Regions from separate parts of the Homo sapiens genome. Here all the other regions are linked to region 1. Evidence: fine-mapped expression QTL. A gene starts in region 1. Each other region holds a variant in brackets. All regions are shown on one strand. Distances are between the middles of the regions.

Region 1 (7,917 bases):
CCAGGGCGGTAGAAATAGGACCATGAGGTTTGTGCCTCTCTTACCTAGTGTCCTTCCTTTTTGTCCTTCTTGAGTATTCAGAAAATGCCTTTGAAAGTTCTAACATATCTCATACTTCACTGAGGGAGTTTTTAAATAAATAGGGCCATAAAAAACTTGAACGTGCCCGGGCGCGGTGGCTCACACCTGTAATCCTAGCACTTTGGGAGTCCGAGGCTGGTGGATCACGAGGTCAGGAGATCGAGACCATCCTAGCTAACACGGTGAAACCCCGTCTCTACTAAAAATACAAAAAAAATTAGACGGGTGTGGTGGCGGGCGCCTGTAGTCCCAGTTACTCGGGAGGCTGAGGCAGGAGAATGGCGTGAACCCGGGAGGCGGAGCTTGCAGTGAGCTGAGATCGCGCCACTGCACTCCAGCCTGGGAGACAGAGAGAGACTCCATCTCAAAAAAAAAACAAAAAAACAAACAAAAAAAAAACACTTGAATGTAACAACCATGGTGGCAAGAACAAAGGAAGAGAATCCCGAGGGGAGCAGGAGAGGGATAAATGTGGAAGCTACCAGGGGCCTGCCATTCTCGTTCCCTTCTTGGTTTTGGGGATAAAGGTTGGAGGCTCTGGTTTGTATTTTAATCTGGAATCAGTACTCCAATATGCCTTATCCTGGCATAAGAAGTGTTTGAAAATGGTTTATAGAATAGACATCTAGTTTTCTACCATAATCAACCTTGAGAGAACTGAAGACCATCTAAGATTTCTCTCTCCTTTTAGAAATAGAAGTGAGGCTGGGCACAGTGGCTCACATCTGTCATCCCAGTACTTTGGATGACCAAGGTGGGAGGATCACTTACGTTCAGGAGTTCAAGACCAACCTGGGCAGCATAGGAATACCCCCCATATCTACAAAAAATAAAAAAATTTAGCTGCCTATGGTGGTGTGAACCTGTAGTCCCAGCTACTCAGGAGGTTGAGATGAGAGGATGGGGAGGCCGAGGTTGCAGTGGAACTGGAATCGCGCCATTGCACTCCAGTCTAGGTGACAGAGCTAGACCCTTTGTCTAAAAATATATAAATATATTTATATATACCCGAGTGAATACATGTAGAGATCTACCCTTGTTGGCTTGTTGACAACGCACACATATTTGCAAGTGTCCATTGTATGTGCTGGAGGAAATACTATGTATACTTTGAGAGGATTTGTTGAGCCAAAAAACAGGCCCCTGCCTAATGCTGTTCCTGGCTCAAGAAAGTATCACCTTAAGAATTTTACAGAAATATTGTTGAAGCCTATGGCTAGAGGAGGAAAATGAGAAGGAAACAGAAAAGACACAAGGCCTGGTGAAACTAACTAGAGATTTGCTAGGGGAGTTCTGGGATAAGCCCCCAAAACACATGTGTGTGCACTTTCACTTCAAGAGCCCTCATCCCTTTCTTCTTTACCAACACGTCTATTTTTTTCTTTAAAAATGATATTTTACATTCTGAAAACACCTTAAAATTAAGGTGCAAAGAATCTCATGAGGTATTTATGCCAATTTTTATATTATTTTTTCGGACGATTTATTGCAAAGTAGCTCTAACAACAAACTGACGTCTTAAAGAGATTCCTTCAAAGGCACAAACTTCAGGGGGAATGCAGTGTCCATTAGCTTCATCATTTTCAGCTTGGGATATGCATATCGAAGCATAACTAGGGAAATGAGGCAGTATGTCTTCCTGAGTCTCGAGCCTCACAGCTGGAAGGCTGTGACCATCTGGGCTCTGATCCTAATTAGTGCGTGGGGGTAGGAGTGGTGCTCAGCCGGTCCCTGGCCCACCAGTCTCCTCGCTCTAGCGGTGGGTCAAGGGTGATATTCCTCCCGGAATAGCGGAGCTAAACTGTAACGCTGAATAAAAGAAAAAAGAAAAAAAAAAAAAAGAAAAAAGAGCTTCTTGGGGTGGGGGTGGGGAAGCTACAATACACTGTTTGTTAGGGTTAATCCCGGTTTTGACAACTGCCAGAGCTGTTTAAAAAAGGAAATGATTAAATAAACAAGACAAGCCACTAAATCAAATTTGCAAACGAACCTCTCTACTGACTCACTCAAGGGTTTCTGAACCTCAAGAAAAGATTTTTGAGTGAGGAGAAGTAAAGGTACCTTCCGTGTCATTACGTAAGCATCTCCTGCTTTGAGGATTACAGGAATTACCACCCGCAGCCAGCCGGGAGCTCCGCTGCCTATTGCACCTGCCGGACCTAGGCTCTCTCATCTCAGCCCGAGGCTGGGCAGCCAAAGCCGCCTGCGAGTATTCGGGAACTGTCCGCGGACGCGTCTCCAAACCGTGCCGAGATACCAGCGAGAAAGAGGTTTTCTCAGACGGACGTTCACTAAGTAGAGAAAATACGCTATAGTTTCAAGTTGGGAAACTTTTCCTTATAACTGCATTACCCACTGTGAGCTGCCTGAAAACCGCTAGCTTCTTTTCAAGGGATTGCGACGACTCGTGTCCACAACTGTAGGAACCCGACGAACTCAGAGGGAGGATATACAGACTAAAGCACGAGTAGAATCGGTTTGCGCTATGTGACTTTGGGTCACATTTAAACTGAAAATGCCAGTGGCCGCGCAGTCGGGCTACTTTTCCCAGCAGCACCATATCCACAGCCAGTTGTCCCTTTTCGGGAGACGTTTTCTGGAAAAAATAGGTACCTGAACTCTAGATTCAAAGCGTCTTTCTGAATCTCTCCCCGGTCCCCGCCAAGCCGAGCTCAGTCATCTGGCTCCCCTCTTCCCCATCCCCGCTGCCAGAGGTCGTCGCCGTCTGTGGTCCCGAAACCCGAGAGTGGCTCCTACGAAGCCTTTCAGAGGTGGTGCAGGGGGAGGGGAGAGGATGCTAGTTTAGCCAAGTTAATAGTTTCTTCTATGGGATACGTTTTTGGGGAGTTCTGGGGCAGAAGGTAGCCTTGCTACCCCCAGTGACGATTGCGAGCCTGACCAAGGCCGGGCCGCTGCTGTTAGTGCCACATCATCCTAAGCATAACTAGGAAGGGACGCCGGAGATCAGAGACCGCCAAGACTCGAGAAAGCAAACCAGCCCCGCCAGGCGCGCAGCCGCTGCTGAAGCCTTCCCAGATGCGAACCTCCCACCCCCACTTCCCCGGCTTTTTCATCCCTTCCAGGGCCCAACGGCAACAAGAAGTCTGGTCCCGTACTTTGGCAGAGTGCGCTCCGAAACCCTGGTGAAGAAAGAGAAGCCTTGAGGCGCAGTCCGTGTTGCCCACTCTGGGTTCGAACACGCAGCTAAGACAGCCACCTGTTCTACAAAGCTGGAGTTTGTGCGGGCGCGGGCTGCGGCAGGAAGGACCCCATCGTCCCCTCCCTCAGTACGGTTCGGGACCGCCAAAGGTGCACGTCACCCCAAATCTAAGTGCGCACACACCTGCGCACTCACCCGGAGGCGCGCGGCGACTCACTGCCGGATCTCCTAGCTTCAGCCCCGACCACGCGCTAGCTACTGGGGCCCACCCCGCGACCTGCCCTTCCGGGAGGATGGCGCCAATTACCTGCAGTTAAGATGCAAAGAGCGAAGAGAGTCTTGTAGACCATGGTAGCCTGGTATTTGGTGCCCAGCCCGGGGCGGGCGGCAAGGAGTTTGCGGACTGACAGAGCGCACTGGGCGCTGGTAGCGACTCCTCTGCCGGGTGGGCTGCGGTGGGAGCCGGGAGGCGCGAACAGCTCCAGTGGAGGGCGCGAGGCAAACGAGGCGAACGCAGCGCAGCTCCGTCAGCTGCGTGCCCTCCGGTGCTCCGCGCTCTTCTGCTCCATCCCAGCCGCCCGAGCCCGGGGCCGCCTCCGCCTCCGCCGCCGCCGCCGCGCCTGCCGCTGCCAAACCCCTCCCACCCGGGCCCCGCGGCGATGACTGGGCCACCCCCTGGCCTTCCTTCTCTCAGCCCTCAGGTCCCGAGAGCCCCGGCCCAGAGCGGCCTCTGCTGGACAGTCAAGACACGAGACCCTGGGTTCAGCAAATGTTTGCAGCGCCTTGCACTGTGCTGGGAACTAGGGATGCAAAGAAATGTGAGCACATCTCTGCCCTTAGGAATCTAGCTCAGCTTTTCCTACATGAGCTTACAGCCTTTAAAAAGGTGACCTTATGCCATTTTAGGAGTTCCCTCGGAGAACCGGCACATGTTCCAAGAATGAGGACCTTCTTCATTTGTCAAAACACTTCTGCGTGTACATCATTAAACCCTCATCCACATTAAACCCGGCTGAGCTTCCTGGGGCCCGAACCAGGATGTCTGCCGCTGCATTCAGCTTCTTACTAGAAGAAAATACTGTCGGGGGGATAACTAAGCCAGACACCCTACTAGGCGTTGTTTCATGAATCCTTCTAAGAATTATTATTATTCCATTTTACAGGTGAGAAAATGAAGGCACAGAGAAGACAATGTTCTCAAGGTCGCATAACTGGTAAGAATAGTTTGTGCACTAGGCCCATAATAAAGGCTGACGTTTCCTGAGTGATTGCTATGTGCTAGGCACTGGACAACGTGCTGTTCAGGAATCAACCAAGTCATTTAGTTCTCACAACAATCCTTGGAGATTATATCCTCGTTTTCAGGGGAGAAAGTAGAAGCACAGAGAAGTTTAACTTGCCCGAGTTCACACAACTCGCAAGTAATGATAAGATGCCTGCCCAGGCACCCCGCTCAGCCTCTGTACTCTACTCCCTCTCAAGAGCCCAAAGCTTCTCCAAAGCCTACAGATTAGAACTGACCTTTCATTCAGTTCCCTCCCTGCTCTTGCTACACTTTAGGCTTGCTTAATTCTCACACTTCGATCAAAGCAGATGCCAGGTTCTCTCCCAATTCTGTTATTAATGAACCTATTGGTCCCCTAGTCACTAGAGCTGGGGCACTGCAGGAGTTAACAAGCCTTTGTAAAGAAATGATTTGCGTGGAAGGCAGCTTTCTTTTTTCTGTAATATCTTCTTCATATGCCATGGGCTCTGTTCTCACTTCTTTCTCACATACCAGAAGCTGACTCTAGGAGTCCTGAGCACCTTATCTATGGTCAATTCCTCTGCCTGACTCTATCACACTACCACTTGTAGATTTTGCTCACACTTCCACAACCAGATTAAATTTGGATCATATTTTTTTCTCTTTGTTTTGGTAAATCTAGTAATTTCTGTTGGAATGAGAAACAAAAAATACTCAGACCAAGTGCCCATCCCCTCTCCATCCTCCCTGGCCAGATAAACTGCAAATTCAATTTGTTCAGCATGTTCTCTGAATGCTTTTGACTTCAAGGCCCTTCCGGTTTCTAGGGTAATCTATGTGATTAGGAACAATTTCTGCATCTGGGTTTTGGTTGTCATGGATGCAGGGACCACACACAGATGGAGTTATGCAGCGACATTCTATCAGGCATTAGCCCCTTTAAATAGGGCAGGTTAAGTAAGTGACTCTATGGCAGAAATATAGGTTTTTGAAGACCACTTCACAGAAAAAATTTATTCAATTGAAATTCAGCAAAACTTGAAGGAGTCTTTCTGGAGTGCGAAGCATGTGCAACTCTAACCTTGATATCTAAGATAATGGTTTGGTACTCAAAGAATCATGACCCCTACACACTAATCAGTGAAAATTTCCAAAACTTTTCTATTGTACGCAGGATAGAGTTGAAATAATTTCTTTGATTAAAATAGTTCATTTTAATTGCTGATTAAAAATTTTAATTTATTAATTAATTTAGTCAGAGCATATTTAATCACTTATTTTACGCCAGCCCTTATGCTAGGCAATGGAAATACAATGGTTGTAATAGCCAGGGTAGTGTAGGTTATGCTGCTGTAACAAACCAGCCCAAAGTCTCCCAAGCTTAAGCGATAATGGTTTATTTTTTGCTCATCAAAGTCTGCTATGGATCCAGGTTACTCCTCAGAGTAGCTGTCCTCAGGATCAGTGTTGTACCGCCATATCGAAACCTGCTTTTGTTACAGTAGGTAGCTAGATAGGCATGAGTGGGGCAGCAGAGGGCTCCCCCCACACCCCACCAGGAAAGTCAGGTAACCATCATGTGATGGCCAGGCAGTTATTAACTGTCTCTCTAAAATAATAATTGGTTACAGCTGGCACGAGGGACTGACCATCTCCCCATAAATAGGGAACACATGAAACTGGTAATCAGCAGCTTCCAATAAGATCTCAGGAGGTGGGTGACTGAACTCAAGCATGTGCATTAAGATGCAAAATGGTGGAGTTTAACTGGTATATGACCTTCTGGGGGCATTAAAGCAATGCAAGACGCCAGAAGTAGACCAGCATGTAAAACCCTAAGTGCAAGGTCAAATGGGGCACTTGACGTCCAAGATGCCCTCTTAGGCCTCTTCCAACTGTGCTTTCCTTTCTTGCTGCTCTAAAGCTTTTTAATTAACTTCCACTCTTGCTCTGAAACTTGCCTCAGTCTCTTATTCTGCCTTATGCCCCTCAATTATATTCTTCCTTCCGAGGCAAGAATTGAGGTTGCTGCAGTCTCTGCCGGTGACTCAAATAACTTCCACCTCTAACAGTTTCACATCCACCTCTAACAGTTTCACATCCACTGAGTTAGGGAAAGAGAGAAGTGGAGAATTAAGTATTTAAATCTTCCACCTAAAAGTGACAATTCTGTTCATATTTTATGGGCTAAGGCAAGTCAATGGCCATGCCCAACTTCAAGAAAGCAAGAAAGCATGTTATTTTTGCGTGCTCAGATAGAGACGAGAACTCTATAGCAGGGAACATTGTGATATGTGCCACAGGGGCTAATTGTCCCTGCACCAGGAAACTTATTTTCTAGTAGTGGGGAGTTAAACATTGAATGAATAATCACAAAGACATATGCAATAACATTATATTAAATGCTACAATAATAATAATGATGAAAATTTATTAATTGTTTCAAGCATTTTATGTACAGTCATGTGTTTACATTTCTACACTCTAACTTTGTGAGATAGATACTGTAGAAGACCAGAATGTGCCACTTCAGAATATGCCTTTTCAGTATAAGCATTTGTTTGAGAAACAGCAGCTATAGGAGCAACTCTGAGAACAGAGTGGAATTACCTTTTTGTAGGGTGAATTTAAATCTATAAAGGAAATTTTCATTTGTAAAAATGTCTTCCTCTGAATTCTAGGAAGAAAAGGATGGCACTAAATTACTGGAAACTCTTATCAATGGAGAGGGCTCTGACTTAAATACGCATAACAAACTTTACCTTTGTTTGCCATGCTTTACCTGGTCACTTCCTCATAACTGCACCCCTACCCCCATACTCCTCTTTCTTTGTTTCAGCTGAAGATGATATTTAAGTTTGAATTCAAAGTCACCTCTTTGAAAATTACTAATTCCCTGACTATCTCCTGTACATATATATGAAATATACATGTTAATAACCTCGTGGGGTTTTTGTTGTTGTTAATCTGTCTTTTGTTATAGGGGATCCCAGCTTAGAACTCATAAGGGGTAGAGAGAAAAATTATCTTTTCTCCCCCCAAATACTATTATTATCCAAATGTTACAAAGTAAGAAACTGAGAAATACTTATACAGAATAAAACTTTGAAGGAAACTAAGGGATTCAATGAGATATAATAGCAGGGGAACTAGTACTCCTCAGTGGGGTCAAGGATGGAATTTGCATGTAACCCTTAGTTATGACTTACAGCAAAAGCCATTTTTTTTTTAGTAGAATTCTTAGTTCTTTTATAATACTCCACTGGGATAAAATCTCACATAAATCTACCTTTTACTGACTTTGACTCTTTTTTGATCATTGTTAAAATGAATTTTTAGTGTTGTGGACTTTTAACATTTTACCAAAAAAATTGCTCTTGGCTGACATAGATTTTTACATCCTGAATATATTATATTTTATAATTTTAGA
Region 2 (7,917 bases), 160 kb before region 1:
GCAATAACACCACACATCTACAACCATCTGATCTTTGACAAACCTGATACAAACAAGCAATGGGGAAATGGTTCCCTATTTAATAAATGGTGCTGGGAAAACTGGCTAGCCATATGCAGAAAACTGAAGCTGGACAACTTCCTTACACCTTATAAAAAAATCAACTTAAGATGGATCAAAGACTTAAATGTAAGACCTAAGACCATAAAAATCCTAGAAGAAATCCTGGGCAATAACATTCAGGACATAGGCATGGGCAAAGACTTCATCTCTAAAACACCAAAAGCAATGGCAACAAAAGCCAGAATTGACAAATGGGATCTAATTAAACTAAAGAGCTTCTGCACAACAAAAGAAACTGTCATCAGAGTAAACAGGCAACCTAGAGAATGGGAGAATATTTTTGCAATCTATCCATCTGACAAAGGGCTAATATCCAGAATCTACAAGGAACTTAAACAAATTTACAAGAAAAAAACAAACAACCCCATCAAAAAGTGGGCAAGGGTATGAACAGACACTTCTCAAAAGAAGACATTTATGCAGCCAACAGACATATGAAAAAATGCTCATCATCATTGGTCATTAGAGAAATGCAAATCAAAACCACAATGAGATGCCATCTCACGCCAGTTAGAATGGTGATCATTAAAACGTCAGGAAACAACAGATGCTGGAGAGGATGTGATGAAATAGGAATGCTTTTATACTGTTGGTGAGAGTGTAAATTAGTTCAACCATTGTGGAAGACAGTGTGGCAATTCCTCAGGGATCTAGAACTAGAATTACCATTTGACCCAGCAATCCCATTATTGGGTATATACCCAAAGGATTATAAATCATTCTACTATAAAGACACATGCACATGTATGTTTATTGAGGCACTATTCACAATAGCAAAGACTTGGAAGCAACCCAAATGCCCATCAATGATAGACTGGATAAAGAAAATGTGGTACATATACACCATGGAATACTATGCAGCCATAAAAAAGATTAGTTCATGTCCCACATGGATGAAGCTGTAAACCATCATTCTCAGCAAACTATCACAAGAAGAGAAAAACAAACACCACATGTTCTCACTCATTGGTGGGAGTTGAATAATGAGAACACATGGACATAGGGAGGGGAACATCACACACTGGGGCGGGTGGGGGGTGGCAGGCTAGGGGAGGGATAAAATTAGGAGAAATACCTAATGTGGGTGACAGGTTGATGGGTGCGGCAAACCACCATGGCACATGTATACCTATGTAACGAAACTGCATGTTTTGCACATGTATCCTAGAACTTAAAATATAATAAAAAAAAATCCTCAACAGAAAAAATACTAGCAAACCTAATTTGACAATACATTAGAAAGATCATTCATCATGACCAAGTGGATTTATCCCTGAGATGCAAGGATGGTTAGACATACGCAAATCAATCATTGTGATACATTATATTAACAGAATAAAGGATAAAAACCATATGATCATTTAAATTGATGCTGAAAAGCATTAGATAAACATCAACATCCCTTAATGTTAACCCCCTCCCCAAGCAAACTGGGATTAGAAGGAACGTAGCTCAATATATTAAAAGCCACATACAACAGATCCACAGCTCATATCATACTGAACAGAGAAAAACTAAAACTCTTTCCTCTAAGATCTGGAACATGACAAGGATGCTCACTGTCACCACTGCTATTCAACATATTACTCAAAGTCCTAGCTAGAGCAATCAGACAAGGGAAAGATACAAAGGACATCCCAAATGGGAAAGGAAGAAGTCAAATTATCCTTGTTTCCAGATGATATGATTTTACATTTGGAAAACCCTCAAAATGCTACAAGAAAACTATTAGACCTGATAAATTCAATATAGTTGCAGGATACAAAATCAACACACAAAAATAAGTAGCATTTTTATGCCAACAGTGAACAATGTGAAAAAGAAACCAAAAAATAATCCCATTTATAATAGCCACATATGAAATTAAATATCTGGAAAATAACCAAAGAAATAAAAGAACTCTATAATAAAAACTATAAAACAGTGGTGAAAATAATTAAAGAGGACACCAAAAAATGGAAAATATTCAATTTTCATGGGTAGGAAGAGTTCATATTGTTAAAATATCCATACTACCCATAGCAAACTATAGACTCAATGCAATCTCTATCAAAATACCAATAACATTCTTCACAGAAATAGAAAAAATAATTCTAAAATTTATATGAAACCACAAAAGACCCAGAATAGCCAAAGCTATCCTAAGCAAAAAGAACAAAAGTGAAAAAATCACCATTACCTGACTTCAAATTATACCACAGAGTTGTAGTAACCAAAACAGCATGGTACTGGCATAAAAACAGACACATAGAGCAATGGAACAGAACAGAAAACTCAAAAAAATCCACACATCTACAGTGAACTCATTTTCCACAAAGTTGCCAAGAACATACACTGGGAAAAAGACAGTCTCTTTAATAAATGGTGTGGGGAAAACTGAATATACATATGCAGAAGAATGAAACTAGACCCCTATCTCTTGCCATATACAAAAGTCAAATCAAAATGGGTTAAAGGCTTACATATAAGATCTCAAATCATGAAGCTACTGTGAGAAAACATTTGAGAAAATCTCCAGGACATTGGTCTGGGCAAAAATTTCTTGAGCAATACCATACAAACACAGGCAATGAATGCAAAAAGTAACCAATGGGATCACATCAAGTTAAAAAGCTTCTGCACAGCAAAGGATACAATAAATTAAGTGAAGAGACAACTAACAGGATGGGGGAATATGTTTGCAAACTATCCAGCTGACAAGGGATTAATAACTAGAATATATAAGGAGCTCAAACAACTCTACAGGCAAAAAAATCCAATGATCTGATAAAAAAAAATGGGCTAAAGATTTGAGTAGACAATTCTCAAAAGAAGATATACAAATGGCAAACAGGCATATGAAAAGGTGCTCAAAATTATTGATCATCCAAGAAATGCAAATCAAAACTACAGTAAGATATCATCTCGCCCTAGTTAAAAAGGCTTCTCACCAAAAGATGGGCAATAACAAATGCTGGAGGGTATGTGGAGAAAAGGGAACCCTTGTACGCTGTTTGTGAGCATGTAAATAAGTGCAACCACTATGGAGAACAGTTTGGAGGTTCCTCAAAAAACTAATAATACAGTTACCATATGATCCAGCAATCTAACTGCTGGGTATATACCCCATAAAAAGGAAATAAGTATAATGAAGAGATATCTGCACTCCCATGTTTGTTGCAGCACTGTTCACAATGGCTAAGATTTGAAAGCAACCTAAGTGCCCATCAACAGAAGAATGGATAAAGAAAATGTGGCATATACACAATGGAGTGTTATTCCGCTATAAAAGGAATGAGATCCTGTCATTTGCAACAACATGGATGGAACTGGAGATCATTATGTTAAGTGAAATAAGTCAGGCACAGAAAGACAAACATCATATGTTCTCACTTATTTGTGGGATCTAAAAATCAAAATAATTGAAATCATGGACATAGAGAGTAGAAGGATGGTTACCAAAGGCTAAGAAGGGTAGTAGGGGGTTTTGAAGGGAGGTAAGGATGGTTAATGCATAATAAATAGAAAGAATGAATAAGATATACTATTTGATAGCACAACAGAGTGACTATATTAACTGTACATTTTAAAATAACATAGAGTGTAATTGGATTGTTTGCAACTCATTGGATAAATGCTTGAGGGGATGGATACCTCATTCTTCATAATGTGCTTATTTCACATTACATGCATGTATTAAAGTATCTCATGTACCCCATATATATATATATCTACTATGTACCCCAAAAAATTAAAAATTAAAATTAAAAAAGTGAGACTAAATCAAAATACAGGTATACTTTGGAGATATTATGAGTTCAGTTCCAGCCCACTACAATAAAGCAATAAAGTGATTCACAGGAATTTTTGGTTTCCCAGTGCATATAAAAATTATGTTTGCACAATCCTATAGTCTATTAAGTGTGCAGTAGAATAATGTCTTAAAAAATGTACATACATGCCTTAGTTAAAAACCTTTTTTTGGCTGGGTGCGGTGGCTCACACCTGTAATCCCAGCATTTTGGGAGGCTGAGGCAGGAGGATCACGAGGTCAGGAGATCGAGACCATCCTGGCTAACACGGTGAAACCCTGTCTCTACTAAAAAAAAAAAAAAAAAAAAAAAAAAAAAAAAAAATTAGCCGGGCGTGATGGTGGGCACCTGTAGTCCCAGCTACTACTTGCGAGGCCGAGGCAGCAGAATGGCGTGAACCTGGGAGGCAGAGCTTGTAGTGAGC[C/T]GAGATCACACCACTGCACTGCACTCCAGCCTGGGCAACAGAGCAGACTCCGTCTCAAAATCAAAACAAAACAAAACAAACAAACAAACAAACAAAAACTTTTTTTTGCTAAAAACTGCTAACAATCTTTTGAGCCTTCAGCAAGTCATAACCTTTTTGCTGGTGGAAGATCTTACCTCAGTGTTGATGGCTGCTGACTGATCATGGTGGTGACTTATGAAAGTTGGACTGGGTATAGCAATTTCTTAAAATAAGATAACAACGAAGTTTGCTGCATTTATTGACTCTTCCTTTCATGAAAGCTTTCTCTGTAGCTTTGTGATATTGTTAGTATTTTGTTGAACAGTATTTTACTTACAGTAGAAATTTTTTCAAATTGGGGTCAATCTTCTTACAGTCTGTTTCTGATTTATCAATGAAGTATAAACTTATAAATCTTATTACTTATAAAGTTATAAATATATTCTAAATCCTTTGTTGTCATTCCAACAATGTCTACAATATCTTCACCAGGGGTATATTTCATCTCAAAAAACCACTTGCTTTGCTCATCTGTCAGAAGCAATTCCTCATCTGTTAAAGTTTGATCATGAGATTGGAGCAATTCAATCCCACCTTCAGGCTCCACTTCTTATTCTGGTTTTCTTACTATTTCCCCCATATCTATAGTTACTTCATCTACTGAAGTCTTGAACCTCTCCAACTCATTGATGAGAGTTGGAATTAATTTCTTTCAAGCCCTTATTAACGTTGATATTTTGACCTTTTCCCATGAATCACAAATGTTCTGGATGACATCTAGATGGTGAACTTTTTTCTGAAGGTTTTCAATTTACATTGTCCGAGTCCATCAGACAAATCACTCTCTATTGCAGCTATGGCATTATAAAGTATATTTTGTAAACAAGAAGACTTGAAATTAGAAATTACCCCTTGATCCATAAGCTACAGAATGGATGTTGTGTTAGCAAGCAGACAATCAACAATAACCTCCTTGTACATCTCTGTCAGAGCTCTTGAGTGATCAGGTGAATTGTCGATGAGCAGTGATATTTCAAAAAAGAATTTTTTTTTTCTAAGCAGTAGGTCTCAAGAGTGGTCATAATGTTCAATAAACCATGCTATAGGCAGATGTGCTGCCATCTAGGCTTTGTTGTTCCATTTGAAGAGCACAGACAGGGTAGATTTATTAAGAGCATCATTCTTAAGGGCCTTAGAATTTTCAAAATGGTAAGTGAGCATTGGCTTCAATGTAAAGACACAAGCTGAATTAATCCCTAATAAGAGAGTCAGCCTGTCCTTTGAAACTTTGAAGGCAGATATTGACTTGTCCTCTTTATGAAAGCCCTAGATGGCCTCTTCTCCCAGTAGCAGTCTGTTTTATTTACATTGCAAGATCTGTTGTTTAGTGTAGCCACATTCATCAATGATCTTAGCTAGATCTTGTGGATAATTTATTGTAGCTTCTACATCAGCACCTTCTGTTGTTGGTTCTACATCAGCACCTTTTGTTGTAGGTTCTACATCAGCACCTTTGTTGTAGCTTCTACATCAGCACCTTGCTGCTTTACTTGTACTTCACTTATGGAGATGACTTCTTTCTTTTAACCTCATGAACCAACTTCTGATAGCTTCCAACTTTTCTTCTGTAGCTTCCTCTCCTCTCTCAGCCTTCACAGAATTGAAAAGAGTTAGAGCCTTGCTCTGGATTAGGCTTAGTTCTAAGGGAATGTTTTGTCTGGTTTGATCTTCTCTCTAGACCACTAAAACTTTCTCCATATCCAGAATAAGGCTGTTTTGCTTTCTTATCATTTACACGTCCATTGAAGTAGCACTTTTAATTTCCTCAAGAACTTTTCCTTTGCACTCACAACTTGGCTAAGTGGTGCAAGAGGCCTAGCTTTTGGCTTATCTCTGGTTTGAACATGCCTTCTTCACTAAGCTTAATCACTTCTAGAGTTTGACTTAAAATGAGAGATATGAGACTCTTCTTTCACTTGAATGCTAAGAGATCATTGTAGGATTATTGGTTGGCCTGATTTCAATATTGTTATGTCTCAGGGATTAAGTAGACCAGAGAATAGAGAGAAAAATGTGGGAAAGGCTGATAGTGGAGCAGTCAAAACACACACAATATTTATTGATTAAGTTTGTTATCTTATAAGGGTATGGTTCATGACATCCTAAAACAATTGTGATAGTAACATCAAAGATCACTGATCACAGACCACTATAGCAGATATAATAATCATGAAAAAAGCTGGAAATATTGCAAGAATTACCAAAATGTGACACAGGCACAAACTGATCATATGTTGTTGGACAAATGGCACCAATAGACTTGCTCAATGTAGGGTTGCCATAAACCTTCAATTTATAAAAAAAAATGCAATATTTGAGAAACACAGTAAAGTGAAGTGCAATAAAACAACATATGCCTGGATGTCTTTTCTTTTCTCAAAATCCTTTGATGGCTTCTCCGGGAACTTATGATGAAATCCAACCTTACAATGCGTCCTACAAAGGCGTGCATGATTTGACTGATTCTCCAACCTCCTTTACCATAACACTCCCTTCCACTGTTTACAATCCAGCATGCTTTCTTGTGTATACCCAGGGATTTCCACATCATGACCTTGGGGCACTCTCTTCTGTCTATCTGGAAGCTTTTCTCCTAGGTTCTGATTCTCTCTACCTAATTAACGTCTACAAATCATCCAGATCTAGGCTCAAATGTCACTTCCTCAGAGGGACACTTTCCAAATGTATTGATCTAAATTATTATTCTGTATTTATTCTCACATAATACTTTTCCTTAAGTGCTTACTAAAATTTGTAATTCTGTGTTTATTTATGTAACGACTGTTTCCTTTACCAGCAAGTGAGCCTCACAAGGCAGAAGCAATATCCAGTTTGTTATTATTAGCATATGGATAGCATGTAGTTTGTTGGCAATAAATATTTGTTGGAGTAAAGGTATTATGATTTTTATTGTAAATTTAAAAATATATATTTCTGGAAAGTCTAATTTTGGGGGAGACTAAATTTATTTTTGGAAGAATTTATCACAGAAATTCTCATATAAAAGACATTATTAGTGTAACATAATATATTAAACTAGAATTTATGTGATATGAAAATATTCATTAAATTAATACTGAAAATATAATACTGGCTTTTTTTTCAATCATAAAAAGTAATATTTGTATAAGTGGCACATTGAACAGGTAGGACTCTTGGGATGTATTAGAAAAGCACATTTATTTATTTTTTTAATCTCCCACTGTCTGTATAAAATATATTCAGTGGAGAAAGTGTTTCCCCGCCCTGGTTTACTTTTACATAATAACAATAAAAAATAATGTTATAGTCACAATCACAGTTTCAATTCAGAAATTGAGACATCCAGTCCCAAGGAATGATCCAAACTCTGACCTTGATTTAAGGTTAAAGTATTTCCACTCCCTTGGCTGGTGGTTTTCTTCAGGCAGGAAGGCAAGGAAGGAGAGGTATCACCCTTCTCTTTCCTTTCTCAAGTTAGGCTTCCATCCCCTTGTTTTTATCTTGCTAATTGTGGCT
Region 3 (7,917 bases), 410 kb before region 1:
GGAAAATGTAAGGACTTACAGTATAATTTTGTTATTTTTGGAAGCTTAGTTCAAAATTCTAATTTAGCACCCAATGTCATCTTTGGATACTGTGTGCCAGTCCAGAAAACTAGCACCTTTTGCTCAGAGCCAAACTGACAGAGACATGCTCAAATAAATTCACATTCCCATTTTAACTAATAATTCAGCAGGAACCTGAGTTTGCAAACTGGTAGAAATAAGAAAGAGGGAGTGGGTGTGGGTAAAAGAATGGGTTAGAGACCTGGCGCAGGTGGCTCACGCCTGTGATCCCAGCACTTTGGGAGGCCGACGTGGGCAGATCTCGAGGTCAGGAGATTGAGACCATCCTGGCTAACACGGTGAAACCCCGTCTCTACTAAAAATACAAAAAATTAGCCGGGCTTGGTGGCACACACCCGTAGTTCCAGCTACTTGGGAGGCTGAGGCAGGAGAATCTCTTGAACCTAGGAGGCAGAGGTTGCAGTGAGCTGAGATCACGCCACTGCACTCCAGCCTGGGTGACAGACAGAGACTCCATCTCAAAAAAAAAAAAAAAAAAAGAATTGGGTAGAAAGAATATTTTATATCTTATTAAAATGGGAGTGCTGATGCTTCAGACTGACTGAATAAAAGCTTGCCCTTGAAGTTGACCTTGGAAATGTGAAACTCTCCAGGAAAAAAAAACAAAAACAAAAACATAAACTTTGAAATCCCACTGTGGTGAAATTAACAGATAAGGTTGTAGTCCTTCCTGGTGTTTACAAAGAACAGAGATCTTTATGATTAATGACAACTCTCTTTTAGCAGGTCACTTCTCAAGTCCTCTGCTTCCTGGAAAGTAATATTTATCTTAGAGAAGTTTCATTTCATAATACCCTGTCTTTTGTTGTCGATCTGTTAAATGCAGGCGCTTCCATTACAAGGATCCACCAAGGGAAAGGACAAAGATGATCATGCAGCCAACAATAATGTTCATTTATTTATTTTCTCCAGATTCCAAAAGCACTAAATAAATGAGGCAAATTAGAGGATGAATGTTAACGTTTTTGACATAAATTGAACTTAGTGGTAGATGATAGTTTTCTTTGGAGACCTTTCAAGATCAAATCCACCCATATTTATCACATCTGGTTGCATTGCTTACTATCAAATAGCATGATATAATTTTATGGACATTGTAAACTCACTTTAGGTATGGCCTAATACAGCCCACTTCTTTGAAGGCAGCATGAAGTTCCAGGGAAAGAGGTATTTCAAATCATAATAATCAGGACATACAGATAGAATGTAATTCCTGCCTTATAATTAGTGAATCTAACCTCTGAAGTACTCACCTTCCCAGAAGTAATTGCTCTGTTTGGGTTTCGCTAACAACAGGGAATTTTAGGCCTGTGGGGGTGATGTCTTTGATTCTTTCAGTGACTGCAGAGCACTACTGGAATATAGCAGGCAAGACCAGTGATGCTGAGTGTACTGCAAAACATGAGGCTTTCTCACAAATGAGGAATTGTTCTTCCTAAAGTGTAATAACATTCCTTTTGAGAAAACTGCAGAAAAAAGATGACAAGAACCATAGAAACTCTATGTATACTCATTGTCTCAGACACCAGTTCTGTGTTGTAAACCTTCCTAAAATTTGGTGTATTAAAACAATGCTTTATTATTTCTCATGATTCTGTGGGTTAACCAGGGTCAGCTGGGCTGTTCTTTTGCTCCATGATGTGATGCAGCTGAGAACACTTGTGCAGCTACATTTAGCTGAGAGCTCAACTAGGATTGGCATATTCAAGATGTCTTCTCACATTTATGCAGCCAACAGACATATGAAAAAATGCTCATCATCACTGGTCATCAGAGAAATGCAAATCAAAACCACAGTGAGATACCATCTCACGCCAGTTAGAATGGCGATCATTAAAAAGTCAGGAAACAATAGATGCTGGAGAGGATATGGAGAAATAGGAATGCTTTTACACTGTTGGTGGGAGTGTAAATTAGTTTAACCATTGTGGAAGACAGTGTGGTGATTCCTCAAGGATCTAGAACCAGAAATACCATTTGACCCAGCCATCTCATTGCTGGGTATATACCCAAAGGATTATAAATCATGCTGCTATAAAGACACATGCACACTCATGTTTATTGTGACACTATTCGTAATAGCAAAGACTTGGAACCAATGCAAATGTCCATCAATGATAGACAGGATAAAGAAAATGTGGCACATATACACTATGGAATACTATGCAGCCATAGAAAAGGATGAGTTCATGTCCTTTGCAGGGACATGGATGAAGCTGGAAACCATCATTCTCAGCAAAATATCACAAGGACAGAAAACCAAACACTGCATGTTCTCACTCATAAGTGGGAGTTGAACAATAAGACATGGACACAGGGAGGGGAACATCACATGCCAGAGCCTGTTGGGGGGTGGAGGGCTGGGGGAGGGATAGGGTTAGGAGAAATACCTAATGTAAATGATGAGTTGATGGGTGCAGCAAACCACCATGGCACATGTATACCTATATAAGAAACCTGCACATTGTGCACATGTGCCCTAGAACTTAAAGCATATATATATAAAAGAGATGTCTTCTCATTTTCCAGAGTCTCTCTGTATGTGCCTTCTCCTTATTCTATATTCTAGCTTTAGCTTCTTCATGGAGTGGTGATGGGCTTCTAAGAAGGAGTTTTCCAAAAATGCAAAACTGGAAGCTGCATGGGCTCTTATAGGCTAACCTTAGAAGGCACTTGTCACTTCTACCTCATTCTTTTGGACAAAGCAACTCACAGAGCCAACTCAGAATCAGATTCAAAAGGAGGGTAAGTAGATGAGAGGATCCACCAAGCCTCATTGCAACAGGCATATGAATAGAAGGGTTTGTTGCAGCACATTTAGAAATGATTCTTACACA[C/T]ATGACAACATTTAATTCTTTGTGAGTTAGAAATTAACCATAAGTTTCATTTCATAGAAGAACAAACTGTGGCTTTGAGATGATAAGTGACATGCCCAAGACAACACCATTCACTGGTAAGTGGTGGGGCTAAAAGTTGGGTTGCCTGATCCCAAGTCCTTTTGCCTTCCTTTATTTTTTATTTTCTTAGAAGTTATTTCAGGGTTAGGCAAAATAAATGAGGCTTGTAAATTTGGTGAGTCCTCCGTTTTCAGTGGCTGTTGAATATCTTCCGGACTTTCTTCCCAAGATATCATGCAAATTGCCCATGGTCCTTGTACTGTGGTGTCCCATTTATGTCCCACTTCCTTGGGCTGTACTCCAGGCTTTGTAGTCTCCCCAATCCCTATTCCTGTTCAAATTATGACGCTCTCTTCTCTGTCTTGCTGTTAGCTAATACTGGACCAGAGAGCAGCTAATATTCTGACTCAAATTGTCACCTAAGTATAGTAATTGTTTAATGTTTCTGTCTACCCAGTATCTGTTTTCCCTTTGGTAACAGTATACCAATTTTCCCTGGGGGATCCATTTCTTTCTTTGTTTTGTTTCATGTGGTTCAAATGACACTGAATGTAATCCCTGCTCCAGGAGTGAACAGTTGACTGAGGGCTGGCTAATTAGAGGCTTGCATTTCTCTTGTCATAGTCATTGGTTTGCAGATGAGCACATGACCCCAGCTAGGACAATGAAAAGTCACTAAAAGTAAATTCTGTTCAGGTTCTTTGTAGAGGGATACAGAGAAAGAGCATTTTCCTTCCTACTGATGAGATGAGAGGTAAGCCTGGAGCTTCTTGGAGCCATCTCATCTCCACGGGCAATAGCCTGTAGGAGAATGAAGCCATCAGAGGAAGGCAGAGGGGTTAGTGGGGATGAGGGCAGTGCTGGTCCAGTAGCATCATCTGAGACCCTGGGAAGGGCCAAAGCCAAATCTATGCCTGGATTTTTGAGGATGGTAGCAAATTAATTCCTTTTTCTGCTTCAACTAGGAATTCCATTGTGATTCAAATGACAAGAGATCCCAGGGTAGTATAAGGATAAAACTTTAGATAAATACAAAGTATGGTATAAGATAGGGAATTGTATTAACAAGAAACAAAATAGCAGTAAGAGCTATTAGACTGTAATCCTTAGGCAGCTGAAATTATAAGTGTACATTTTGTTTCTGAAGGCACATTTCTAGTTCATTGTCTTGTACACAATAATTACTAAAACATCAGTCTTAAATCCCAACCCACGGAACACAGAGTCTTTCCTGAGGAGACGGCAAATAGGTTTTTTTCTCATGTGCCAACTCTGATAATTTCTAGTGCCTACCTGGGGCATAGACTGAAGAAGACTCCTGAAGGCTGTCACAGGCTATGGGAAGAGTGAAGGAGTAGGAGTGTCTGCTATGGGTGAGAGTGGTGCATCAAAGTTGCGTCTAGTTTCCAGTATATGGTGGTGACCTCTGGTTGTGAAAGAAAAGACAGAAGAGCTGCTTTTTAGTGTTTCGAATTTTTCCTTTCTTACTAGCCTGGTACCTTGGTTAGATAATTTGTTAGATAATTTTAGTTGATTCATTTGCTTAGCTACCTAAAGCCTTTGGTCTCAATATATGTTTAGGAGTCAATGTTCAGTTAGGTCATTTGGCATCTATGATAAGAGGTAAAACTTACCCAACAGAAAAATATTTTCTACTATATTATTTAGTTGGTTTGTGTTAGGTAGAAGCTGAGTTCCACATAACCCATGGAGGCCTGGTGTACTCTTGCCAATTCCTTATCCCATACCCTGTGAACTTTAGGAAAGGCAGCGTCACAGCCTGTGTTATTAACTCTCATGACCTCCTGAAGTGGAGAATGTTCTAGTGGCATTTTTCAGAACCTCATTTTGGTAGGCAGAATGAAGTTCCCTCCCAAAGGTATCCACATCTGATTCCTGGAAACTGTGAGTATGTTATGTTGCATGGCAAAGGGGAATTAAGGTTGCAGATGGAATTCCGATTGCCAAATAGTTGACTTTAACTTAGAGAGACTGTCCTAGATAGTCTGAATGGGTCCACTGTAATCACAAGGGTCCGTAAAAGTGGAAGAAAAGGAGAGAGGAGGGCAGAATAATGTGAGGTGAGAAGGACTCGACCCACCATTGCTGGCTTTGAAGATAGAGGAAGGGGGCCATGAGTCAAGAAGCTGGAAAACGCAAGGGATGGATTCTCCTCTAGAGCCTGAGAAATGAATGCAGTCCTGCCAACACTTTGATTTTAGCCCAATGAGACCTAACCTGCAGAATTTTGAGCAGACTTCTAACCTACAGAATTGTAAGATAATACATTTCTGTTGTTTTAAGCCACTAAGTTTGTGGTGATTTGTTATGGTGGCAATAGGAAATTAATACAAATTTCTCTGCAGTGAGATAAAGCTCTATTAAATGCAAGTTGAGTCATAGAATTATAGAGCTGAGTGGGATCTCAGAGGTCTTCAGGCCAATCTTAATTCCCCATACATGAATCTCTTTTACCATATACTTGATAAATGGCTTTCCAAGCTGCATAATCATGTCAACAATGACAGCTGCCAATGTCCAGAGGTGATTCATTCTAATGAACTGTCAGAATTCTGTCCTATAGGAGGCAGAAATGGACCTCCCTGTAGCATTCCTTCTTTAGTTCCAGTTTTGTTTTTTAGAGTTGCACAGAACATTTTCAAGTTTCTTGTTTACAAAAGATAGCTGTTTAGCTGTTTGAAGATTTAACCATGACCTCCTGAGCATGAATATCCTCATGCTCTTCTTGTGGATTCCACAGCACACGTGCCCTAGTGACTAAAACTACACCAAACCTGGCAGATGTGGTATAACCAGCAGACAGCCTGCAGATGCTTACTGGTCTCCTCTGTTCTGAATATCCCCCCTGTGTGTTGTATTCACTTTGTCAAGAGCATATCTGCTACAGTGCCCAATGCTGTATAAACAGCTTTCTTTCCCTCCATGATGTAGACTTCCCTTTCTCTTCTCCAAACCTCTGAGGGTTCTGCTTTGCACCTGATAGATGCCTGATATAAATATTTACTTTTGAAACATGCTATCATTTTCATATCCTTCATCTTTCTTATCTGTTTCCTTGTATGATCTGTTCCTGGGGGTGAAGGAGGAGAGGAGATAAAACTAATTCTGCGATGTAGAGGACAGAGCATATTTTGTGGTAAAGACCTGGATTCAAATTCTGCCTTTAATGTTTACTGGCTCTAGACTGCAGGCAAGTTTCTTAGTATAGCATGGACCTCCGTTTTCTCATCTTGGAAATGGTGAAGAATAATTCTTATTTATAGGATTGTGGTGAGAATTAAATGAGGTTGCCTATGTAATATGCAAAACAAAGTCCTTGCCAAGATTTAGTATCTTTTTTCTCCTGCTTCTCCCAACACATCTGACTTTGTTCCTCCTTTATCTTATACAACTAGAGAAAATAAAATCTTGAGCTGCGGGTTCAAACTCAGAGTGCTCAGGATGGCCACTGTGTTCTGGAGGAATAGCAGATTTGTATGAAGTTGCAGAGCTTGGACTGAACCTTAAAGGCTGTGTGGAAGAGAGTTGAATAGCAGGGATGACTAGCAAAGTTTTGTGCCCTGACTTTGAAAGTTATGTTCATTTTTTTTTTCTGTATTCCTTTTTTTTAAAATTGTACTTTAAATTCTGGGATACATATGCAGAACGTGCAGGTTTGTTACATAGGTATACATATGCCATGGTGGTTTGCTGCACCCATCAACATGTCATCTATATTAGGTATTTTGCCTAATGCTATCCCTCCCCTTACCCCCCACCTCCCAACAGGCCCCAGTGTGTGATGTTCCTAACCCTGTGTCCATATGTTCTCATTGTTCAACTCCCACTTATGAGTGAGAACATGCAGTGTTTGGTTTTCTGTTCCTGTGTTAGTTTGCTGAGAATGATGGTTTCAAGCTTCATCCATCTCCCTACAAAGGACATGAACTCAGTCTTTTTTATGGCTGCATAGTATTCCATGGTGTATATGTGCCACATTTTCTTAATCTGGTCTATCATTGATGGGCATTTGGGTTGGTTCAAAGTCTTTGCTATTGTGAATAGTGCCACAATAAACATATGTGTGCATGTGTCTTTATAGTAGAATGATTTATAATCCCTTGGGTACATACCCAGTAATGGGATTGCTGGGTCAAATGGTATTTCTAGTTCTAGATCCTTGAGGAATCACCACACTGTCTTCCACAATGGTCGAACTAGTTTACACTAGTACCAACTGTGTAAAAGCATTCCTGTTTATCCACATCCTCTTCAGCAGTTTCTTGACTTTTGAATGACTGCCATTCTAACTGGCATGAGATGGTATCTCATTGTGGTTTTGATTTACATTTCTCTGATGACCAGTGATGATGAGCTGTTTTTCATGTTTTGGCCACATAAATGTCTTCCTTTGAGAAGTATTTGTTCTATCCTTCACCCACTTATTGATGGAGTTTTTTTGTTCTAGTAAATTTGTTTAAGTTCCTTGTAGTTTCTGGATATTAGCCCTTTGTCAGATGGATAGATTGCAAACTTTTCTCCCATTCTGTAGGTTGCCTGTTCACTCTGCTGACAGTTTCTTTTGCTGTGCAGAAGCTCTTTAGTTTAATTGGATCCCATTTGTCAATTTTGGCTTTTTTTTTTCCATTGCTTTTTGTGTTTTAGTCATGAAGTCTTTGCCCATGCCTATGTCCTAAATGGTACTGCCTAGGTTTTCTTCTAGGGTTTTTATGGTTTTAGGTCTTACATTTAAGTCTTTAAACTATCTTGAGTTAATTTTTGTATAAGGTGCAAGGAAGGGGTCCAGTTTCAGTTTTCTGTATATGGCTAGCCAGTTTTCCCAACACCATTTATCCCACCATTTATCCCCATTAATGGGGAATCCTTTCCCCATTTCTTGTTTTTGTCAGATTTGTCAAAGTTCAGATGGTTGTAGATG
Region 4 (7,917 bases), 110 kb before region 1:
ACCTCTAAGGCTCATGCTAGCATATGAATTATTATACCTTGCTACTGGAAATCATGTATGCTAGATACAGTACAAAAAATGACCACTCCCACTAATTTTTATCTCAGCTAGATGTGAAAATTAAACAAAATGAAAACACAATTCAAAGGTGCAAAAAGCATTTGGTATACTTATATCTGTTGCTAAAATAATTGCTATTGCAATTTTGAAGCTTATTTACATCTGCCAGGTATTTGCAAAAAGACAATTTTTTTTTTTTTTGCAAAGAACTAGACCTTTGCTGTGCTCGTTTCAAACTCTTAGCCTTCAAAATTCTGATTTATGTCCTGAAGGCTGATTCAGCTGACCTAATCTATGTACCTGAAAACCTGAAGATGTTCCACAGTTTGCTTTCCCTAAAGGCTCACATTTATTTCTGTGGGTATGGGAATGAAAGAGACCATAAATAGAAACCCAGAAACACCACTGCTTCTTTGATCTATAGAAATAAGGGAGGTAGCTTTGGTAAACAAAGGTCATGGGCTGTCTATGGCCAACACTCTCCCCAAATGTGAAACCTCCAGTTCCAATCAAATCCTTTAACAGGATGGTTGAGAAATGGAAGCTGTAGAATGAACAAGTTAAAATCCGGTAACTAAAGCCCTGGAGCTCTGCCTAAATTTCAGCATAACTTACTGCTACAAGCCTGGCAAAATATACTCAATAAACATGCTCCTTTATTGATAGGGTACTCCTGCTTCACCTTGTATGGTAATTGAACTTCTCACAGAATTTTTATCTCTATCATATATTTTTATTCCCATAAAATGTGAGTTTGGTCAATAAATGTATGTCCTTGAATAAGTTTTTAACCCCCTGTTTCTTCATCTATAAAATGGAGAAACTTTAAAAAAAATTGCTTTATGGTTGTTAGGAGGATTAAATAAGGTAATGAATATAAAAGGCCTGCCACATAGCAAATGTGCAATGAATGTTGGCCAATATTGTTTTTAAATTTTTAATATAATAAATCTTATACAAGCACATGGTGAATCTGCCAAATAGTAAAAAATGTCATTGAATGAAAAGTGAACCTCCTCCCACTGGGAACTCTTGAAACTATACCCCAGGCATAGTTATAAAACCAGTTTCTTACATGATTGTTATTGTATTTGAATTTTTAAAGTTTATTAGTATGTTGGAATGGGGGTTAGAGGATTGAAAATCTTCTGGCTATCAGGTTTACTGGCTATGGTTATTTTAGGCAAGACTATTTGGTTAATGCTATATCTGAATCTCCTATACTGTAAGACACACCTCCTATACAAACACTAGTAAAATAAAGGAAAAAGATTGGCCTTTACTTTGTTTTTTTTTTTTTCCTTCCCATTAAGGAAACAGTGAGTTGAGTAAAATGCTGATAAGTGAGGAAAGATATACAAGAGATATGGATGAACCAAAATTGGGAATGTACTGAACCCATAGGGCTTATTTACCACATTAACGAGCTTAAACAGGAAAAATTGGGTGTACTGGGATTCCAGCCAGGTTTGGACAAATTGGATACTATTGTAGTAAGAGTAAGACAAACACATTTTTTGTACGTGTGATAAGAGGACAATAATTAGTGAGCATGTAAAACTTTCTCTCTAGGTCAGAACCTCTTAAATCATGGCACATTTTGGATGGAAATGGGGAGGTTTTCAGATTGGCATTTGCATAGTGTATGAGGTTAAAAAAAAAAAGACAATCAGAAACCAAAAAACAAAGCAACTCCCATTCTCAAGATAAGTAAAGTGGGACCCAAGGAATTTAGGTGACTTTGTCAATGTTATTTAATGGTAGTGCTGCTAATGAAACCAAGGTCTCTTTGCTTGCTTTATAAGGCAACATTGCTTCATCTAATTTCAACCTGAACAGCAATCTGGATGAATGATGTCATTGTAAGGTCAAAGCAATTTTATTTACTAAAAGTCTTAATAAAGACTGGCACTGATTCAATATAGCCATGTTTTCTCTTTGCTGTGTCTTGGCTCCGCTTAGATGGTAAACTTCTTGAGGGCAGACTATGTCCTACTTTTCTTCTAACTACCTGAAACACCTAACATGTTGCTGTTGATATAATGGTTATTTTATAAATATTTGATGATAACTGCTTATATGCAGCAGCATAGATAGTGTATATGGAGTGTCTATGGGGTTTGGCTAATACCAGCTAGGATTAATATGGCCCATGGAAATTCATTGTATAGTATAATTGGAAAAATGAAAACATCCCATAAGGAATATTGATGGTCAAAGTCACTGTTTTGACTTTAAACATAGGAAGGGAAAAGAGCATTATGGCTGGACTAGCATGCAATGATGTGGCTTTAAGGCCCTTAGCACAGTGCTCACAGCCCGTTAATCAATGGCACTGTGCTTATTGTCAATGTGAGTCTACTGTATCATATGGTGCAGTAAGCAAATTAAAACCCGAGGGGGAAAAATGAAGAATGATTTCTTTTAAACTCTTCCCTCATTGCTCTCTTTCTCTAGTGGCTCTTCCCTAATAGAAAGCAGCACTCCCTACTCCCTGCCCCTACTTGGTGACCACTTGTTGGTGACAAATGGTAAATGATGTGGTGACATTTGTGGCTTGAGGTATTCTCCAACACTGCAAAATGGTACCTATTTAAAGATAACTGTAGCATCAATACTTAATGAAACTCTATTGTCTTTGAAAATGAGTGAAGTGTCCCTTTTCTTGCGTTGAAACAAAACATATTTTAGGAAATACCTTGTCCTTTACAAGGGTCAGCCCCAGTTCTCCACAAGTCTCCACCTTTATTTATGACTATGCCCCACAAAGCCCTCTCCTCTTTAGTCAAGCAAGTCTTGCCATTCAATCATTAGTGCTTACCATGTGCTAAGGATATGAAGAAATATGGAAGGATACAAAGATGATTAAGACATGGCTTAGTGCTGGAAAAATGCAGCTGAACTTTCAGTTCATTAGCCATGAGTAATTAAGCCTTAGACTCTTGTTGTCCATTAACAAAACTGTTTGATGCAGCTGTCACTGTCTCCTTTTCATTGTTTCCATCGTTTCCTCTTTTTTTCTGATTATCATTTCCTGCCTGGCTTCTTTAAGTATTCATTGAAAACTTACCATCTATCAGGCCCTATTCTAGCACCTGGTTGATACCTTAATAAACTGAACAGATCAAAATCCCTGTCCTTAGGGAGCTTACATTCTACGTGGGGAGACACAGTAAATAATATACAAATAATAACATGGTGAATGTTACTAAGTCCATGGAGAAAACAAATAGAAGAAGTGGGTGGGGTGGTGAGGAGTTCCCAGTAGGAGGTGGGGACTGTAATTCTGAATATGATGATCAGGAAGGTCTCACTAAGACATCTTTGAGCAGACACATAGAGGAGATGACGGATGAGCCATGTGGATAACCGAGGGATACCGTGTAGACAGAGGGAGCAGCAAGTACAGAGGCCCTGAGGCAAAAGCAAACAATATATCTTTGTGGTAGCTACTGAGTCATAATTTAAAAAAAATAAACTTTGTATGTTGGAATGATTTTAGATTTAGAGAAAAGCTGCAAAGATAGTACAAAGATTTCCCGTATACCCTTCACCCAGCTTCCACTAATGTTGATACATAATTGTGGTACATTTGTCAAAACTAAGAAATTAATATTGTGAACCACAATTTTGGGGCTAAGAAAACTGAAATCATTACAATTTATTTTATTCACCCAAAGTTACGACAGCAAGTTAGTGGCAGAGTGAGTATCACAACTAAGGAATCCTATCAGTTCCATCTTTTAAACAAAAATCTCACTGATGGGAATATTTCCAAATATTTATTTTTAAAATCCTTTTTTTTTCCAGACTCTGGGTTTCTTTTAAAAAGCTGTTACTTTCAAGCATATCTTGAAATAATTACCTTTGCTTTGAAGGGGCAGGTCATATTTGTTTATTTAAAAAATTATCTGCCAGATGGCATTACTATTGGAAGACAATCATCACAGAAAAGGTCTACACATTGGCACATCTGTTTATTTGTAAACTAGCTCAGTGTCACGAC[G/A]TAGCTAGTAAAAATCTGTGTGGTTTAACAGATTCCCATGGCTTCCCCTTCCCCAAACCCTGGTTCTTCTTGATTAGGAGTAAACGAATGTTACTGCTGCACCCCCAAACTTTCCTATTCAGACTCATGAACTCATCCAATAAATGTTCATTAAGCAACTACTATACGTCAGGTACTGCCAAGGACTTGATATTGTTCTAGTGGAGAAAACTGGTAGAGAATGCACTGATTGCAGTACAGGGAAGCACATGGTATGAGGGAAGCATGCACAGCAAGGAACTCAGTATGGAAAGGTGGATGAAGGCTTCCCAAAGGAGATCTCTCTTGAGCTGGACGACTTGAAATTAGCCAGATTGGGAAAGGGGTGAACCAAACACCTCTCACAGAGGGATCAGCATGTTCAAAATTACAAAGGCAATATATCTGAAACAGGGCAACATATCTGAAACATATATGAAACAACAGGGCAATCTATCTGGGAAACTGTACAGCAGAGAGTGTGTTTGGAGTGTTAGAAATGGGTAAAACAGGGCTACTGGAGTGTTAGAAGCGGGTAAAACAGGGCTACTCAAAGTGTGATCCTTGGACCAGCAGCACTGGCATCACCTTTGAGCTAGTTAGATATGTAAATGCAAGGGCCCCACCTGGACCTACTGAATCTGAATCTATGGGGATGAGACCCAGGAAACTGTTTATTTATTTTATTTTATTTTTTTTTCTCGCTGTGTCACGCAGGCTGAAGTGCAGTGGTGCGATTTTGGCTCACTGCAAGCTCCACATCCCAGGTTCATGCCATTCTCCTGCCTCAGCCTCCCGAGCAGCTGGGACTATAGGTGCCTGCCACCAGGGCCAGCTAATTTTTTTTTGTATTTTTAGTAGAGATGGGGTTTCACTGTGTTAGCCAGGATGGCCTCGATCTCCTGACCTCATGATCTGCCCGCCTCAGCCTCCCAAATTGCTGGGATTACAGGCGTGAGCCACCACACCCGGCCGGAAACTGTGTTTTTAATAAACTCTTCCATTGATTCTTATGCACATTAAAGTTTAAGAACCACTGAGGGAGAAAATTGAGTAAACAAGACCTACAGAACTCCAAAAGGTGACCTGAAAAAGTCAACTGTGTATAACAAATTCTAGAAGATCTTGGCCTTTATGGCTGGCTGGGCCTACTCTAACAACCAGAAGGAATCCAATTGTACAACCTGCAATCACTAGAAGACATAAAGCAAAATAGGTGACTTCTAACAAGACGTCTTAAAAGACAGGTCCTGTTGTGTCTATAAATCAAGACTGCATTTATTTTTGTGAAGAAAACAGCCCATGTAGTCTGTCTGGGTCACCAGCACACCTAATTACAGCAACATCCACATCACTGGTCTTAGCAGATACGGTCTCCTGTGCAGGGAGATTATGTCTTGGCTGAACAGTTTTGAGCCAACTTAAACAAATCAAAACAGACTTATCTCATTCTTCAATCATCACTAATTAAAGATAGTTCTGCAAAAGGTAGACAGGGCCTTTGCTTTCTTTTAAAGTTGCAAACAAGCCCTGGCATAAAGACTGCTCAGAGATAGTTTCCATTTATAAATGTGTAACATGGATTCAACTTCACAGACGTTTCAGAATAGCACTAACGAAACTGCCAAACTGGAACATGGAAGACCGCCATATCAATATTCAATTAGGAAATGAGCTGCTGTGCCATCTTCCCCCTCCTTCTCTCCCCTGTCCTTTGAATCCCTACGCCTACTGAATGGAAATGGTAGGATGGAGACTGTGCTCCCAACCTCACAGCCTATGTGTTGGTGGTTACCAGTTTACTGAGTCCCTATTTGCTAAGCACTGTTCTAAAAACTACAGCAGTAACAGTAATTGACCTTCCATCATCCTCACCTCATACCAGGCACTGAACCTTTATATGTATCATAATTTAATCTTTGTAACAATCTTGAGTTAGGTACTATTATTATTATAGTCTCATTTTACATGAAGAAACTGAGCACAAAGTGATTAAGAAACTTGCCCCAGGCTGGGCGCAGTGGCCCACGCCTGTAATCCCAGCACTTTGGAAGGCCAAGGTGGGCGGATCACCAGGTCAGAAGAGCGAGACCACCCTGGTCAACATGGTGAAACCCCGTCTCTACTAAAAATACAAAAATTAGCCAGGTGTGGTGGTGTGTGCCTGTAGTCCCAGCTACTCAGGAGGCTGAGGCAGGAGAATTGCTTGAACCCGGGAGGTGGAGGTTGCAGTGAGCCGAGATCACGCCACTGCACTCCAGCCTGGGTGACAGAGCGAGACTTCGACTCAAAAAAAGAAAACTTGCCCCAGAGTGCATGTTCTTAGTCACCATGCTAGTCTCTCCAGTTACTCTGCATTCATTACTTCATTTCGTCTTTAAAACAACCTTGAAAGATACATATTATTAACTCTATTTTTTGCAGATTGAAGAAATTGAGGATCAAGGAGTTAATAATTTGCCCAAGGCCGCCTAAATAGTAAGTAGAAGAGTCAGCATTAAACTTGACTGCAAAGCTCACATTCTTCCCTCCACACCACACTGCTGCTGGTTAAAAGGTGGGATCATAAACCAAGAAGGGCCCTGGGTTCAGGGCAGTTCATTTTATAAGTCACATCCAAAAGTGGCTCAGGTTACAAAAAGATGTGGTTCTCCAGGCAGGGGTCATTGTGACAAAACTAGGGGTAATGGGTCCCTGGAGAAAGGGAGTGTGAAAAGCAGATGGCTCTTAAGTTTACAATGCCTTTAGAGGAAATGAGGATCTGGGAAGAAAGGTGAAAAGTCCCCACCCATTGTTAGCAGAGCTTGCCAAGCATTCTATTTTTCTGATCATGAGGCTGCCTTTTCAAGCAGATTCTCCCCTTGCATTTGCAGAGAACTTGGCTGGGCCAGGGCCATATCCCATGGTTGCAGGTCAGAAGCTAATGGCTCCCTATGGGTTGTGATTTTAGTCACTCGCTGCTCCAGCCAAACAAGCTAAAAGACCACAGAAAACAGATCTTTTGTTATGTTATTGTTTTTAGAAATCTGGGATGAAGAAAGAAGAGTAAGTTCCCAACCAAAGCAAAGCCTATCCTTAGGAACATACATGCACACACACACGTCAATTAAAGTATTTTTGATGAACGATTAATGGGGCTTTCCGACAACCTGGCAAAATAACAGCTGAAGGGGTTTTAGCATAGCCTTAAGATTCATAACAACGATTAATCTCCTTATGTTATCATTTTACCAAAATAATTAATAGAGAAGCAGAAAGGGGCTTTCCTTAGGGGGTTTCTGAAACCCCTTAAGGGTCTAATAACTGTATCCATTCTTAAGTTTATAGTGCTTAAACTTAAGTAGCATAATAGATAAATAGCAACCTTATATTTATGCCACTGTATATCTTACTACATTTAGGAGACAGAAGCTGTATGGGGAAGAAGAATAATGATTTATTCAATTTAATCATTTACTTAATTTATCTGGTGCTCTGAACGCCTGGGGAAAATATAGCTTAAAATAAAATTTTAATCAGCACTCATCAGAGCAAATTGTAATGGCCTGCTAACAAAATTTTCCAAACATGGTAAGTACTGTGATGGCAGAACTGTGTCACATCACTAATGTGGCCTGGCACATGGCTGACGCTCTACAGCTATCTATCAAGGACTGTCTTCCTGGGGCTCCTTCCAGTCTACCACTTTGATGATGATGATGATGTTGGCAGTGCTATATACTTGCTTCCAAACAACACTACAAGGTAGAAACTACTGCCCTTATTTTACAGGTGAGGGAAATGAGGGTTAGTGGTGCTCTGTGACATGCCCAGGTCACAGTGCTGGAAGTAGT

Direction of the effects. Alleles are on the strand shown, and positions count from the first base shown. SD is a standard deviation of normalised expression in the study named. Not every link is listed here.
With allele C in place of T in region 3, the expression in tibial artery of the gene that starts at base 3,803 in region 1 is higher (small effect, 0.19 SD a copy in GTEx).

What was found. PIP is the estimated chance that this variant, and not a neighbour inherited with it, causes the effect.
Region 2: its variant is the best candidate, but not a certain one, in a credible set for the expression of PARM1 in whole blood (TOPMed, PIP 0.51).
Region 3: its variant is the best candidate, but not a certain one, in a credible set for the expression of PARM1 in tibial artery (GTEx, PIP 0.59).
Region 4: its variant is the best candidate, but not a certain one, in a credible set for the expression of PARM1 in lung (TOPMed, PIP 0.78).

The regions. Positions count from the first base shown.
Region 1 is chr4:74,929,002-74,936,918 of GRCh38, reverse strand. PARM1 (prostate androgen-regulated mucin-like protein 1) reads right to left here and starts at 3,803. Exons shown (of 4, transcript NM_015393.4): 1 at 3,549-3,803. The coding sequence starts at 3,591. RefSeq lists an enhancer at 2,870-2,919 and silencers at 3,030-3,079, 3,660-3,969.
Region 2 is chr4:75,088,416-75,096,332 of GRCh38, reverse strand. No RefSeq gene overlaps it. Among named protein-coding and RNA genes, the nearest start is that of LINC02562, 7.7 kb to the right of the region's middle. The variant C/T (reference allele first, on the strand shown) is at 4,339.
Region 3 is chr4:75,336,371-75,344,287 of GRCh38, reverse strand. No RefSeq gene overlaps it. Among named protein-coding and RNA genes, the nearest start is that of LINC02483, 14 kb to the left of the region's middle. The variant C/T (reference allele first, on the strand shown) is at 2,919.
Region 4 is chr4:75,036,391-75,044,307 of GRCh38, reverse strand. All of the region lies in intron 3 of PARM1 (prostate androgen-regulated mucin-like protein 1), which reads right to left. LOC107986289 (a long non-coding RNA gene) reads left to right here. Exons shown (of 3, transcript XR_001741728.2): 3 at 6,509-7,253. Among named protein-coding and RNA genes, the nearest start is that of LINC02562, 44 kb to the left of the region's middle. The variant G/A (reference allele first, on the strand shown) is at 4,067.